2 linked regions of the Homo sapiens genome follow. The protein of the gene in region 2 interacts with the protein of the main gene of each other region in a pairwise test. Each region holds a gene or a part of one and is shown on either strand. Other genes may lie near its edges. The genes, in order: PUM2 and DAZL.

What was found.
Region 1: the proteins of DAZL (region 2) and PUM2 interact in a two-hybrid assay, tested with the Homo sapiens proteins (2 studies listed by BioGRID and IntAct).

Annotation. Positions count from the first base shown.
Region 1 is NC_000002.12:20,348,939-20,352,857, reverse strand, and holds the start of PUM2 (pumilio homolog 2), read left to right. Parts: upstream 1-2,013; 5' UTR 2,014-2,261; intron 2,262-3,919. UniProt on the Homo sapiens protein: Sequence-specific RNA-binding protein that acts as a post-transcriptional repressor by binding the 3'-UTR of mRNA targets.
Region 2 is NC_000003.12:16,598,578-16,602,496, forward strand, and holds part of DAZL (deleted in azoospermia-like), read right to left. Parts: intron 22-3,919; coding exon 1-21. UniProt on the Homo sapiens protein: RNA-binding protein, which is essential for gametogenesis in both males and females. Plays a central role during spermatogenesis.

The sequences.
Region 1 (3,919 bases), on a different chromosome or scaffold from region 2:
CTTAAGCAAAGAAGCAGAATTTACCATAAGGATCCAGGAATGCGGCTCAGACTCCAAGGGTAGAGGCAGCCAGCCAGGCACAGAAACATGTGAAAGAGAGACATTGTCAGCACTCTCCTTTTCTCTCTCAACTCCACTCTTTCTCTACAGGTTCCCTGTCTTACAGGATGGAACCAGTCTGCCCAAGGGATCCCAGGTCCAAGAGACTTTCGAGGTTGGGGTCTCTTAGTCCCAATTCCATATTCTAAGGGAGGGCCTGTGATGGATTTATCTAGTTTCACCCACACTAAGCAACTGTATATAAAGACTCTTCTGCTATTATCAGCTCAACGGAGGGGAAAGGAGAAGGAAGGCAAAATGTGTACACCCCAGCATCTCCCATTCTTACTTGATCGTGAGACATTTCTTAAAGGAACATCTATTAACACTGAACACAGCACACTAGGGAAATGCTGTCGTGGGTGATGGGGAGCAATGAGATGGTTGAAGCAGAGGCCTGAGCGCCAGGAATTGGATTTGCATTTTAGATAGCAGTGAGCAGAACTGATTGGAGGGAGTGAGACTGGAGACAGGAAAGCTGATTAAGAGCCAGCTACAGAAATCCAGACCTGGGAAGCAAGGCTAGCATTAGTGAGGAGGCAGAGGAAGACTGTCTCCAGAATTACTTGGGAAGTAAAAATCTGCGAGGCTTGGTAAGTTATTTATATTTGGAGTCGGGGTAAGAGGAAGAGACAAGGATGGTTCTCAGAGGTGTAATTTGGGGAATGAATAGGTGGTGACACTGCCAATTACAGAGACAGTACAAGAGTGGGGGGTAGGGGATGGGTGTGACTTCAGTTTTTAACATGCTTGGTGACAAGAAAATTCAAGTGAAAATATCTAGAAGCCTGAAATATGAGCCTAAGGTAGGGGCTTGGGATGGATTTCAATGTCAGACATTTTTCAGTAATAGTTAAAAACCGAAGAGCCCATGTGTATTCAACAGGCACTTGCGGGCACAGTGTGAAACAAAACACAAGGTCCTTGCCCTCGTGGAGCTCACAGTCGCCTAGGGAAGACATATATTAAGCAAACTATACGGGAGGCCCTGAATATTTACGAAGTGCAGCATGTCAGGAGAGCCAGGAGCTGTGCAAACAAACCATCAAGAACAAATCGGACACGGTGCCTGTTACAGCTGTGTGACCTGGAGCCGGTTAGGTTAGAATCCTGGAATCACCACTGCTTTGCATGGGGGTCCAGGACAGCAAGGCAGATTTGGAGTTTCCAACTAGCCTGTAAACGGGGAAGGAGAGAGCGCTTAGTACGCGAGAAAAAGAAACAGCCAACGAGTGAGAATCACTGGCCCAGCTGGAGAACGACCTGAGTTTCCTTTGTGTGCACCGGGACCAAGCACTGGGGGCCGACAATTTGCTGAGAGCTGGCTCCACCTGCCTGGGGTGCAACCACGAGAAGAGTGACAGCCCTCTCGCAGGGTACAATCTTCCACCCCCAGATGCATCTCCCTCGTCTGGTTGTGGGGAGGTACAGAGTGAAAGTTAAAGGCCTGAATTAACGTCCGGCTCTTGTGGGCGCCAGCACTCTGGAAGCGAAATGCCAGGAGTACCCCACGGTGGGCGGCGCGGGCGCAGACACCCGCACACCCAGTTGGGGGAAAACAGTGAGCAACCGGGTAGGAAGCCGAGGGTAAGAAGATTCAGAAGGCGAGGCCCCACGCGGGAAGACAGTCGAACACAGCGTTTGGCAACAGTACGCCTGCGCTCTCCGAGCCCGCCGCGGCGGAGCCCAGGAGGGAAGCGCGAGCCCGCAAGGTGAGGGCGGGGGAGGGCACGCCGGAGAGGCGGCCAAACACGTGAGAGCGCGGAGAACGTGCGCACGCGCAGGGCGCCCCCGGCCCGCGCGGCGGCAGCGCGGGAGCAGGGACGCAAGGCATTAAAAGGAGCCGCGCCTTGGTGAGCGCTCCCCCTCCCCTTTCTCCCGGGGTGCACTGCGCGCGCCCGGTGGGCGGGGGGGAGGGGAGGGCAGGCGGCGGTGGCAGCCATGTTGTTGTGAGTCTCTGTGTCTCACCCTCGGTACTTCGGTGGTTCGGAGGAGGAGGGGGAGGAGAAGGAGGAGGTGGGGTGGGGGGGGAGGGTGGTAGGTGGAGAAAGAAGACATTGCCGCCACCGAAGGCGGAGGAGGGGGAGGACCGCCAAGAGCGACGCCGCCGTGTGCCCAACGGTCGGTGTCCCCGGCTGAGGCAGCGCGGCCGCAGCAGCCCTGTAAGTCAGTCCGCGTTCGCTCTTTCTCCGGTCCTTTGGCGCCGTCGAGGATGGCTCCCCAGGCTTTGTGCGGCGGCCTCGGCGGGAGCCGATCGCCAGCGGGAGGGCGGATAGGGCCTGCTGAGTGCCCGGGCCGGTGCGGCCTGGGGCCCGCTCGCACAATGCAGGGGGAGGGGTGCCGGAAGGGGGTGTGCGCGTGCGGGGGAGGGGGCGCCGCGCCGGCCGCTTTCCCGCTTCCTTCCCTCTGCGGGGCCGCCGCCTCGGGGGCGTGGGGCGCCGACCCGGTTCTCCCTCCGATTCGGCGCGCTGGAGGTTAGAGACCGAGCTGTCGGCCCTAGGGTTCGGAAAGAGGGGAGAGGCCGGGTGGCCCCAGAGAAGCATGCGGATTGCAAGTGGGTGAAGAGGAAGGAGTGGGTTTATGAAAACAAGTGTGGGCATTTTCAAAGGCCCGAGTGTGTCCGGGAAAAGCTTGCCGTGGACAGATGTGGGTATGAAGCAGTGACTTGGATTCGCCTTGTTTAGGTTATAGGAACGGATTTCGATATTCAGAAAAATATGTAAATTAAAACCAAAGACAAGATTAGCGGCTTCTACTATTTGAGCAGTAGTTTTGTATCTGAATTGGGTCAGGTTTTGGGGAAAATGTTTAAAGTTTCATGCCCAAACACGTGTAAAAGTTAGTGTTGTTTCTGAAAACACAGCCAGAGAAAACCTACTTAACTTAGCTTTTTATTCTAACATACGTAAACTTTTGAAGAGAGGAATGTATTGCCAGCATATTAGGTGCAATAAGACATCATGTTAGGACTTAGTACTTTGAGATTTTTACTTGTTGAGAAAACGGGGCAGATGTTTTGGTGAAGGAAAACATGAGAAAAATGCTTGTAAACGGTGAAGAGAAATGTAATACCTGTAAAGGTACTGTATGTCAAGAAAACAATTTTAATAAAGGGAGTTACCGAAGGATTTTAAAAGCTTGTTTAATGGTTAGATTTCGTGTTTAACAGGTGACTCTTCACCATGTGACCTGGAGTATTGGAAGATGACTTAAGGAATCCTGTAAATAAAAAAAAAAAAACAAAAATGAGTATTTTCAACTTGTTTCTCTTCCTAGCCTCCTTTTAAACAATGATTTACTTCATTTGCTCAATCATTATGAATAAAAATGATGGCATTTTCCGTGCTGCAAGAATTTCTTTAAAATTCCGATTTTTGGTGAAATTGCATTGTGTAGAATTTTCTTGGTGTGCATGAGGGCAGTTTTTGTATGCAGAAAAGGTTTACGATAATCTTAAAAATAAAATTTTATTTCAGAAACCTGGTTCTTGAGGATTTAAGTCCAGTTTTTAAATTTTGTTTACAGGTCTAGCTATTTTGAGTTATAATTGCCAGTAACTTACGCATTTTCCAGCAATTTAAGCTGTGTTTAACACATGCTTTCCTTAATTTGAGTCCAAAGTTCTCTTAGGTGTTTCAGCATTTAGCAAGATTTCAACTTTTTAAAAGAGCCTAAATTAATTACTGACATTTACTTTGCTCTTACAAAGCTGTCACTTTAGAATAAATTCTCAGGCATTACAAATACTGTATATAAATTACCAAATAATACTTGGATTTTGTTTCTCTCAAGCATTCCATACTTGTTTATGAATCTTTTT
Region 2 (3,919 bases):
AGTTTCAGGATTTGCAGTAGACTGTAATTTGGAAAGTAGACATCATAATTAGATACACAGGAAAAACCTATACATAATGTGAAATATAATTTTTGTATTTTAAGTATAAAATATTTTATATAAATTACTTTCATTCTAAGTTAGTTCAGGCTCAGGATTTAAACTTATCAGAGTAGATCAGCATGAAATTTTAATGAAAGGATATAGTACTTTTTTTTTTTTTTTGAGAGAGTCTCGCCCTTGTCACCCAGGCTGGAGTGCAATGGCGTGATCTCGGCTCACTGCAACCTCTGTCTCCCAGGTTCAAGCGATTCTCCTGCCTCAGCCTCCTGAGTAGCTGGGATTACATGCGCCCGACACCACGCCCGGCTAATTTTGTATTTTTAGTAGAGATGGGGTTTCTCCATGTTGGCCAGGCTGGTCTCGAACTCCCGACCTCAGGTGATCCACCCGCCTTGGCCTCCCAAAGTGCTGGGATTACAGGCGTGAGCTACCACGCGCAGCCAGGATACAGTACTTTCTTAAACCCAGTATTGCTCATTACCGAGTCTTGCACAATGCTGTGGAAGAATACTTAGTATTTGTGAAAATACTATGTGAATTACTTAAAAAAAAAACAAACCCAAAATTGGAAAGTTCAGATTTGTAAAAATCAAAATTAAAATCATCCTGTTCTATATTCATAAACAACTTTTCATTTTACTGAGTACACTAATAAAAAGGATGACAAATATTAAAAAACTCCAAAAAGCCACATCAAAAAGAAAATAAGCCTCAAAGTTTTAAACCAATTTGTCCTGCTTCGCCTTTTTCACCAAAATTAACATGAATTTTTACAATTTTAACGCTGTGTTAGTATGCCTGCTTTACTTTGGAAATGGATCATGGAAACATTATTTGCTCACATGTCACAGCTCCTTCTAAAAAAAGGATTATAATCCTCTTCCCTAATGCTAGGGTGTTCAAATCATTTTTTGAAATAACATTTTTCTTCCTAACACCAAATCAGTCCCACTGATAATTCTAATTATCACAGTAGGCAGATATAAATTATACCATCTTTATTTTCAGATAAAGAAACACACATATAACTCATTTTTTCTGGATTTTGATCAGAACTGTCTTTATTCTTTCCGCAGTAGACTCTAAGGCTAATGTAAAATTTTCTGAAGTAGAATTTGTAAGTAATATATATGTTGGAGAAGCAATATAGCAGAGTGAAACAAAAATTAATTTAGTCAGGAGATCTAGGTTTATGTCCCTTACAGGTAAGTGGTTACAAGCCACTTACTTGCCAGCCGTGTATCTCTGGGCAAACTGCTTTGAGAAGGAAATGAGATAACATCTGTGAATTCATTTTGTAAAGTATAAAGTGGTATATCAATATAAGTTAGTGTCCTGTTATTTGAATTTATTTTCAGATTTTTTTTCAAGTTTCTTTTTTGGCTTTACTATTTTAGCTGACTTATCTTGAAGATACTTTTAATTAAGAACGAATTGAAACATCAGGAAACTATGAAACATCATTAATTTAAAAATCATTGGTGAAGTGCCTGTTGACTACAAAAGGTAACTACAAAAAGCTGCAAAAGAGAAAGCTATTACACATATACCTGTCTGAAAGAAAACAAGACAAAAGAAAGCAACTGTTATCTTTTTGAAAAGCACAGTAATTTTATAGGAATTAATAAGAAAGTAGAGTTCCTGCTTTGTTAATTAGATGCTAGAAGTTACTGATTCTACACAGCTTTACTAGAGATGAAATCTAAATTGTCAAATCAACTAAAGCTGAGTTTATTGCTTTTCTCTATTCGTTTGTGCTTATACTTGCTATTTTGGGTTTGTAAATAATTCCTAATTCTTTCTTTTAATAGTGGTATTTCATGACAATGATGTGGAAGAAAAATTTAAAAACTATTTCTACAGTTTTTCCTTTCTAAAAATGTCTTACGTTGTTTTTCTAAATGACATTAAGCTGCGTATCTTGAACTATTAGGAACCTGATTAGATTTCCCCCCTACAGACAATTTACCAATCCCTTCTCAGTTCATTCAGAAATCCCAAACAGAATAAAACAAAACAAAATAAATTCTGAAATTCTTGTAGTTTTTTCTCCTTTTCAATTCCCCCTTGATTTGTGGATGAACTTTGGATATGTTTTTCTTTGATAAACAAGCTATATATACAGTATTGTCTCTGCATCACAGTGTTTGGATGTATTTTAATTTAGAAGTGTAACATCTGGCAGAAAACTGTGTCAGATTATAAGAGGTCATGATAATGCATTGATTCTCAACTGGGGAAGATTTTTGAGCCCTGGGGGCATTTAACAACGTTTAGAGATTGCTTGTCACAACTGAGGTGTATTCCTGGCATCTGATGGGCTGAAGGCCAGGAATACTACTGCACATCCTACAATGCAAAGAAAGCTTCCTACAACAAGGAACTATTTGGTCCAAAATTTGAATAGGGTGTGGTTAAGAAACCTTGTGACAGTGCCACAAGAATTGAGGAGGAAAATTATTGTTTGGGAAGAACCTGATTTCCATTGTTCAGTAAAGTAAGTCTTTTCAGGACCTCAGTTTCCTTGCTTGAAAATGAATGGTTGGAAAAGATCTCTGGTGTCTCTTCTAATTCTCATACCCTATACAAGAGTAAAACGGATACTTGGCGACAACAGTAGTTTGGTAAAGAGGAAAAGAGGCATTTGATATTATTAGGAAGTCTGACTTTGGCTTGGATCTTACAAACTGGCTGCCTGCTTAACTGGAATCGTAAATATAAAATTCATAGGATCACTTTAATAGCGTAATAACATCTTAAATTAAGGAGGCACCATCATGTCCTAGTTCTCAGCCAGCAGGTGGCGCTCAAAGCTAACAAAGTAAGCAATGTACTTCATTTTTACCACGGCTTGATTAGCAAGGGTTGTTAAATTCCTACTGTATTTATACATAATTATAATGTATATATAAAAATCCACAATCAATAGACAAACTTTGGTGAAACCGTGGCCAAAAATATAAATGAATGCTTAGGATAAGCAAAAGCTTAATTTTAAAGAAAGTACCATCGTAACTGTCAATAGCATCCTGAAAACAAACTGCATTAAAGAAGTAATTTTCTTAATCATACCTTCAAGTGAGTTGGTGAATTTTGAAATGAGAAATGTTGGAATAGTAAACGGGTGAGCTTCAAGACCATCATATACACAACTCTCATTGTTATTTATAGCAAACATATTCCTTGTTATATTTGGACAACCAAGTGACAAAGACAGCTAAAAGCTGGAAAAAATTATTATGTAACTCCTGGGATGTCAGCTTCTTTCACAGTATTATCTAATTCAATTACTATGTGAACATGAAAGCAAACTGAGATTTATATAAACTGACCAGGAAAAAGGCTATAATTTGTAGTTATCAAAGTTACGTTCACACCAATAGGAAGGAACGAATAAAGAGAATGCTAAAATTAAGAAAATATGACATGAAAATCAGAATCAAAACTTTAAGTAAATCCAAGAGTAGATTCTTGGGGAGTTGGGGGTGGGGAGGATGAAATTCAAGCAATAAACAATCCTGGCAAAACTAAGCAAGAAAAGGCAAGAAAGCAAAAGGATATATGAGACCTGAGAAATGGGTTATGACCACAGATTATAAAACAATGCTATGCATAAACTCTATAGAAATAAATTTGGAAATCAACGACATGACAAACTTGTAGAGAAATTTAAATTTTTACAAAACAATCTTGAGAAAAAACACCTAATGATACCTGGCTCAGTTTCCGTGGGAGTTTTTTCAACTTGTAAAGAAATAGATAACTTGGGTGTATGTTTGTGTCAGAGAGAGGTGCACATACACATCAGACACCAGAAATAAAGACAGAAAACACAGAAGAGGAGATTAAAAAATTC